Linked DNA regions of Homo sapiens. The protein of the gene in region 1 interacts with the protein of each later gene in a biochemical or structural test. Each region holds a gene or a part of one and is shown in the gene's direction. Other genes may lie near its edges. The genes, in order: AGAP2 and HOMER1.

The links.
Region 2: the proteins of AGAP2 (region 1) and HOMER1 form a complex in vitro, tested with the Homo sapiens proteins (one study listed by BioGRID).

The regions. Positions count from the first base shown.
Region 1 is NC_000012.12:57,728,608-57,732,435, reverse strand, and holds part of AGAP2 (arf-GAP with GTPase, ANK repeat and PH domain-containing protein 2), read left to right. Parts: coding exon 1-33; intron 34-468; coding exon 469-627; intron 628-793; coding exon 794-880; intron 881-965; coding exon 966-1,070; intron 1,071-1,482; coding exon 1,483-1,645; intron 1,646-1,821; coding exon 1,822-1,941; intron 1,942-2,668; coding exon 2,669-2,797; intron 2,798-3,828. UniProt on the Homo sapiens protein: GTPase-activating protein (GAP) for ARF1 and ARF5, which also shows strong GTPase activity. Isoform 1 participates in the prevention of neuronal apoptosis by enhancing PI3 kinase activity.
Region 2 is NC_000005.10:79,371,959-79,375,286, reverse strand, and holds the end of HOMER1 (homer protein homolog 1), read left to right. Parts: 3' UTR 1-2,651; downstream 2,652-3,328. UniProt on the Homo sapiens protein: Postsynaptic density scaffolding protein. Binds and cross-links cytoplasmic regions of GRM1, GRM5, ITPR1, DNM3, RYR1, RYR2, SHANK1 and SHANK3.

The DNA.
Region 1 (3,828 bases):
CACTCAGCTGCATCCACTCCGGTAGCTGGCCAGGTGAGTTGGGGTTTCAGAGTCTGCAGAGGGGCCGGTAAGATGCAGAGGGGCTGGGGATCCTAGGACAGGTACAGAGTACCCAAGGAGGTTCAGGGAGTGGGGAAACAGATGGAAATGGCAGTGAAACTATTGGCAGAAAGTGCATTGGACTGGAAATCAACCAGATTTGAGACATCATTTGCAGTGTCCTTAAGCAACTCACCTAACCTCCCAAGGCTATCAGGAAGATTGTATGACACAATACTTGTGAATCAACCTTTACAACATTTAAAGCATTGTCACAATGTTAGTGAGGATTTTAAAAATTATTAATGACAACATAAATAAATGGTGAGGTGATCAAGGAATGTCTCAAATTCCCCATAACGAGATATGAGTGTAGCTTGGTGGAGTAGGGGGCATCTCAGCTCTGCTGACTCTTCCATATGTGCCCAGGCTAGTAACGGGGGCCACACTAGCGACTACTCTTCTTCCCTCCCGTCCTCACCGAATGTTGGTCACCGGGAGCTCCGAGCCGAGGCAGCTGCAGTGGCTGGATTGAGCACCCCAGGGTCCCTGCACCGGGCAGCCAAGCGCAGGACCAGCCTTTTTGCGGTATTGGACATGGACATGCTGACCCCCATCCTCCTGTCCCCCATGACCTGCCCATCTTCCCTAGTCCCTAGACTCCTCTGTTGGGCCCTTCTTCATCTATCTTCCCTATCGTCACATCAGTGTATCCCTCTATCCATCCTCAAACTGATTCCAATAACCATTCCAGAATCGTCGGGGTAGTGACTCCGAGAAACGAAGCTTGGATAGTCGGGGAGAGACAACAGGGAGTGGGCGAGCCATCCCCATCAAACAGGTGAGTGATCCAGGGGCTGGGACAGGCTAGGGGCAGCTGGTCTTAGTTGGCTTTTTTCCCACATGTGTCTTTCCCCTTTCTCCAGAGCTTCCTACTAAAACGAAGTGGCAATTCCTTGAACAAAGAATGGAAGAAGAAATATGTAACCCTGTCCAGTAATGGCTTTCTACTCTACCACCCCAGTATTAACGTGAGTGGCAGAGACTGGGCCACATTGGCCAGCTTTGGATTTCCCTCAAGTTCTACCTGTCTATGCCTCTGACAAAGCACTAACCTCATTTCTAGGAAGTGCTAGTCCTCTTCTCTTAAGTTTAGCAGGCATGTGTTAAGAGCCCACCATGTGCCCATGCCAGGAATGTAAAGGTAAATACATTGCCCCAGGAACTTGCAGTCTAGTGGGAGAGCACCCAGGAAGGGAACGCTTTCTGGAGGAGACAATTGCTGGGCCAAGTCTGATGGGCCCATCCCCTAGATGTTCATCACAACCCATTTGGCCCCCAAGACCCCTCCCCAGTCCCTCTCTATTCTGTACCATGTTGACTGCTTCCCAGCATACCAAGGACCCCAACCTTCCCTACACTCTCGGCCCTGTACCCCTCCAGGATTACATCCACAGTACCCACGGCAAGGAGATGGACTTGCTGCGAACAACAGTCAAAGTCCCGGGCAAGCGGCCCCCGAGGGCCATCTCTGCCTTTGGCCCCTCAGCCAGCATTAACGGGCTCGTCAAGGACATGAGCACTGTCCAGATGGGTGAAGGCCTGGGTGAGTAAGGTTTATGACATAGGAGCAGAAGAGGGGCCAGGGCTGGGGAAAAAGAGGGGTAAGAGGGAAGAGGGGGCTGGCACTGGGCGAGTAGGAAGCTGGGTGATAAAGAGGGACCACATAAGGAATGGGGCCAGAAGAAAGAGGCTCACTGAGGTTTCATCTTCTTCCGACAGAAGCCACTACTCCCATGCCAAGCCCTAGCCCCAGCCCCAGTTCCCTGCAGCCACCACCAGATCAGACATCCAAACACCTGCTGAAGCCAGACCGGAATTTGGCCCGAGCCCTCAGCACGGGTCAGTGGGGATGACCTTCCATCTGCTGTCTTCCACACCCAAATAGGATGAGTGTGGGAAATGAATATGGGGTGAAGGCTTGGAGGCTGGAATAAATGCATGAGTGAACACATGGAGCCCCACACATGAATAAGTTCAATCATACCATGTCTATCATAATGGTTAAGACAAGTGGACTCTAACGTCAACTGCCTGAGCTTGAATCCTGGCTTGCCACATGGGCAAGTTACTTGACCTCTCCGTGCCTCAGTTTCCTCATCTGTAACATGGAGATAATAGTTTCTACCTCAGAGGGTTGCTTTGAGGTTTAAACAAACTGAGAATATTGTCTAGTACATAGTCAGCCATGTTTGACATGTTTGAAAAAAAATATATATATATAGTATGCAAATAACATTGTAAACAAATGATCCTTACAACAGTTTTGTCAGGTCAAGATTATTACCCCTATTTCAGAGATAAAGAAACTGAGGCTCAGAAGATTAAGTGCCTTGCTCAAGGTCTTAAGGCCAGTAAGTGGCAGAACCAGGATCTGAGTGCAGGACTGACTCTAAACCTCTCATCTCCCTGCATCCCCAGGAATGATCAAGGGGGAACTCCTGGAGAGGGACAGTTGAGGAGGGGAGCCCTAAAATGCCAAAGCTAGTTCAGGGAATGAGACAGGCTATCAAGAAATCAGGAAATCTGTGGAGGGGGCTACTGAGGCAGCTGTGTCTTCCTCCCTAAGACTGTACCCCATCTGGAGACCTGAGCCCCCTGAGTCGGGAACCCCCTCCTTCTCCCATGGTGAAGAAGCAGAGGAGGAAAAAATTGACAACACCATCCAAGACTGAAGGCTCGGCTGGGCAGGCTGAAGGTGAGGCTCTGGCAGGCACTTCCACTCCCACCCAGAACCCTCATCCCCAACATCAGCTCCCTGGCCTAACTCCTGCAGCAGGAGGAAAAGTGCCTGAGCTGAGTGCTTGACTACCATTACCACTGCACACAACTTAGTGAAAGAGTGGATGGACATCCCCCAGCCCCTGTCCTTCTTTCCTTGTTCCCCAGCTAATTCCTTTCCCCAGCCCCTGTTCTCAACGATGTCCATGTCTATAGCTCCTGCTCCCTCTCCTAATGACGTTCTAGTTCCTCTTCCTTCCCTCAACTCCACTTACCACCCCAGCCCCTGCACCCGGCAGCCCCGCTGATCCCCAGTGATTCAGCCCCTTATCTCAGCATCTCCCACTGATTCCCCAGATCCTGGATTCTGTGACCACCCAGCCCCTTCTCCCAATAACTTTCTTTCTTTTTTTTTTCTTTTCTTTTTTTTTTTTTTTTTTGAGATGGAGTCTCACTCTGTCACCCAGGCTGGAGTACAGTGGTGCGATCTCGGCTCACTGCAAGCTCTGCCTCCCGGGTTCACACCATTCTCCTGCCTCAGCCTTCCAAGTAGCTGGGACTACAGGCACTTGCCACCATGCCCGGCTAATTTTTTGTATTTTTTAGTAGAGACTGGGTTTCACTGTGTTAGCCAGGATGGTCTTGATCTCCTGACCTCGTGATCTGCCCGCCTCGGCCTCCCAAAGTGCTGGGATTACAGGCGGTGGGGATTACAGGCATGAGTCACCGTGCCCGGCCTTCTCCCGATAACTTTCTATTGCCAAGTGCTCCCCAACAGCCCTTGACCATAGTGATCCCCATTCTTGTCCCTCAGTGATTCCCCGCACCCCCACCGCCACCAGCCCCAGGGCCCTCTCATCTCAGCCCTGCGCCCCAGCTTCTGTCCCCTTCCCCCGTGTTCACTCAGATCCTGACCCTCCCTTCTTCTCCCAGAGGTCCAGCTCCTCGCTGGTCTTGATAACCCATCCCTGCTGCCCCTGCTCTCTGCCGGGTGCTCAGACCCAGGTT
Region 2 (3,328 bases), on another chromosome or scaffold:
ATTACACATTTTAAAGCCAACTAACGAAGGCAGCTGAGTCCCTCAGAAATTTTTCTTTTTAAGTTTCTAATAAATTTGACACACAGTACTGAAATACAGCAGCCCGTCATTGACAGGCTGGTCTAGCAATGTTAAGTATATTTACAGAATATGCAGTTACATTTATTTATATATTTTGCAAGAAATCTTTTCTGAATGATCAATGCATTTCAATTTACGAATAATAATGGTTATTGGGGAACTGTTTATTATAGATAATTTTAAGGTGTATAGCTATTTTAAAGGGGGTCCATTTACATCAAACAGCTGATCAGAGGACTCTATCTAAATTGTGATCGTGGCAGATAGAGATGGAGTCATGTACTCTATCTGGCTCTACACATCAATCACATCTTGATTCAAACCTCACAAGGCAATATTCTGAATTGTTAACTAGGTATTTCAAAACAGGAATTAAATTCAATAGGCTCTTCTCAGTGAACAGGTTTTAATGTTGTTTTGATGTAATTTTAAAAGACTTTTAGCAAACATGCATTTCTTTATATGATATATTTCTTTTACGAAGCTATTTTAAAAGTAAGCCAAGTGCTGTCTAGTCTGCTTATAAAGTAGGAATTGCATCAGAGTACATATATTCTTGCTGTACAATGCCTGTGATGTTGAGGAGGGTTCTTTTTTAAAGTGTATGCTTGAGTAACTGACTCTATGGAGTCTATAAATGCACTGACTTCTTGTTTGTACCCCAAAATGATCGAATTGTTAAGTACAAAATTAAGCTAATTAACCAATTTGTAACCATTTTTTCACTCATAAACAGCTACTCAATACTAGACAATTTTGTTTTTTATGTATGTGTATGTACGTAAATACATACATATTAATTTACATTAGAGTGAAAAATAAATGGTTTGTTTCTGAAGTTAGTTTCTTAAGTGAGTTTTCAGGTGTCTCTGAAAAATTTATAACAATCATGTATTATATGTGCTGTAACATCATGTACGTTACCTCCATCTATTTTAGGATATTTTCCTCACCTATATATTATAGGGAGAATAATTTAGATACACATGCTCAGAGCTGAGATATTTCTCTGATAAATCAGGTAACAAAATGTATTTGATTGATGGAATTTTGAAGTAAATGTGTTTTTATCCATCAGTTTCTGAGTAACAAAGAGCACCAAGTTTTAATTTAAATAGGAGATTTAACACTAGGGATCAGGGAGTTTAGTATGAAGAGTTAAAAAAATTTAAAAAACAGTGTAAGCTGTTGAAATGGCAAGTGAATTATTTTAATGATGTAATAAAATATTTTTAAATTTTGACATAGTGATCATTTAATGAAAAAACTCACCAAAATGTCTCCATTTGAATTGTATTGATAATGTGGGACATATGTGTGATTCAATATATACATATACCCATATGTATATACAGAAAATTATTTTTAATACTTTCCTACTGATAATGAAATTTAAAATTGGAAATTTTGTGAGTGTTTTTCTTGTCCAATAGAGCCTAATTGTTTCCTTTTTTAGTGATTTAACAATCTCTTGAGGGCTGCACCTTTAAATTCCCAGATTGTCAATAGACATGTACAGTATATGGGATAAGGTGGACACAAGTGCACATATAAATAAAATCTTCTTAAGACTTTTAACTATTCATTTACAGTAGGAGAGTATGTAGAAATCATCATCCACAAGTCATAATTAGGTTGTGTGCCTACTGTAGTTTTTTCCATTTCTGTATTATATAAACATTTGCATATTAAAATTTGATTTTTCCCAGAGACAAGTATTATATACTGTATCTATATTTAAATCAAACTGTGGTAATATATTTCTCAGAAAATAATGTTGGGGACTATAGCCTGAACATGTGGACTTGAAGCGACATGGAGGAGGAGGTTGATCCCATTGTGTATAAGTTAATATGTGATAACTATTGAATCTTGTACAAAAACAAAAATTGAAAAAAAAAAAGAAAAGCAAAAATACAGTTTTTATTTTGAAATACATTTGTTCTCTGGAGAATGTACTTTATCTTTTTTTCCTCCAGTCTTTTACAGATATTTAAAAGCATTTAAATGATGACAGCATTTACTTAAATCTTTCAGGTGCTACTGGATTTTGCATTAGTGTGTTATGTTGTGAAATCCTAACTTTGACATAAAAGGTTTTATAAGTATTCCCCTGCCTGGAAAATTAGTTTTTGTTCTCCTCTCTCTCTCTTTCTCTTTTCCACTTTCTTTCTGCAGACTAAAACATGCTCACGAAGTTGCATCTCTCCTTGTCTCTATAGAAGATCTCCAGCACCATCATAGATTTGATGTTCTGCTGTCATTGAACTGTTGGGAAGCAGTTAGAGGAAAAGCTCACTTTTTTTTTCAGGTGGAAATAAAAGGAACACTCAAAATTAAGCCAACACCACCACTACCTTTAAAAACTAGTTTATTTGCCCTGTTAAAATTAAATGTATTCTTTAACATGTGGGCTACAGTCTCCCATGTTTTTATTTAACTGAAGCATATACACTTCGGTCATTTATCTCCTTGTGGTCCTGATTTTGTCAGTACTGGAATGGGAGGCAGGTCGGGGAAAGTTTGTTTGATGGCAGTGGATTCTTATTGTTGTTTTAACCATTGCATTTATTTGATATCAAATGATTTTGACATCCTGAAATTCTGTGCTTGAAGTCATGAAATGATTTTCATTGAATTTTTGCCTCCTAAATGTATAGCATGAAGTAAATTAATTTATACAAAATCTTAAGAAACCTTTCAGGTAAGAAGTAGTTGAGATTGACACTGTTAGAAAATTTCTCAATTTCTAAATTTAGAAATTACTAGAAAAGGAAAGGATGTGTCATTCACCTTACTCCAAATTGCGAAAGTGTGTTTTTTCCTAATATTCGTGTTAAATTTTACCTTAAAATTTTTATGATAGTTTTTCTTCATGAGAAACTGATATATAGATGTCACGCAAATACAAGCAAAGTTACTGAATTAAAGTAGTGGGTACTTAGCATTTTTTGTTTATATATTACATAGTAAAATAGCTAAAAATCATATCCCAGAAAACTCAAAAACTCAGTCAGCACTACACTGCCTGGTGGTTTCTGCTTAGTACACTAAATAGAAAAAAAAAAAAATTTTAAGTGATTTTTACCAAAAACTTGAACTAGGGAGAAATTGCATCAGGACTAGAATAGACAGAAGGCCACAAACTCCTAGTCGACTTCTTGTCAAGTCTCTGATCTCTGTAAGGACCTCTCTTTTAGGTTAAAGGACACACTGCTTCTCGGCCTTTTGGCTAAGATCAGGTGTA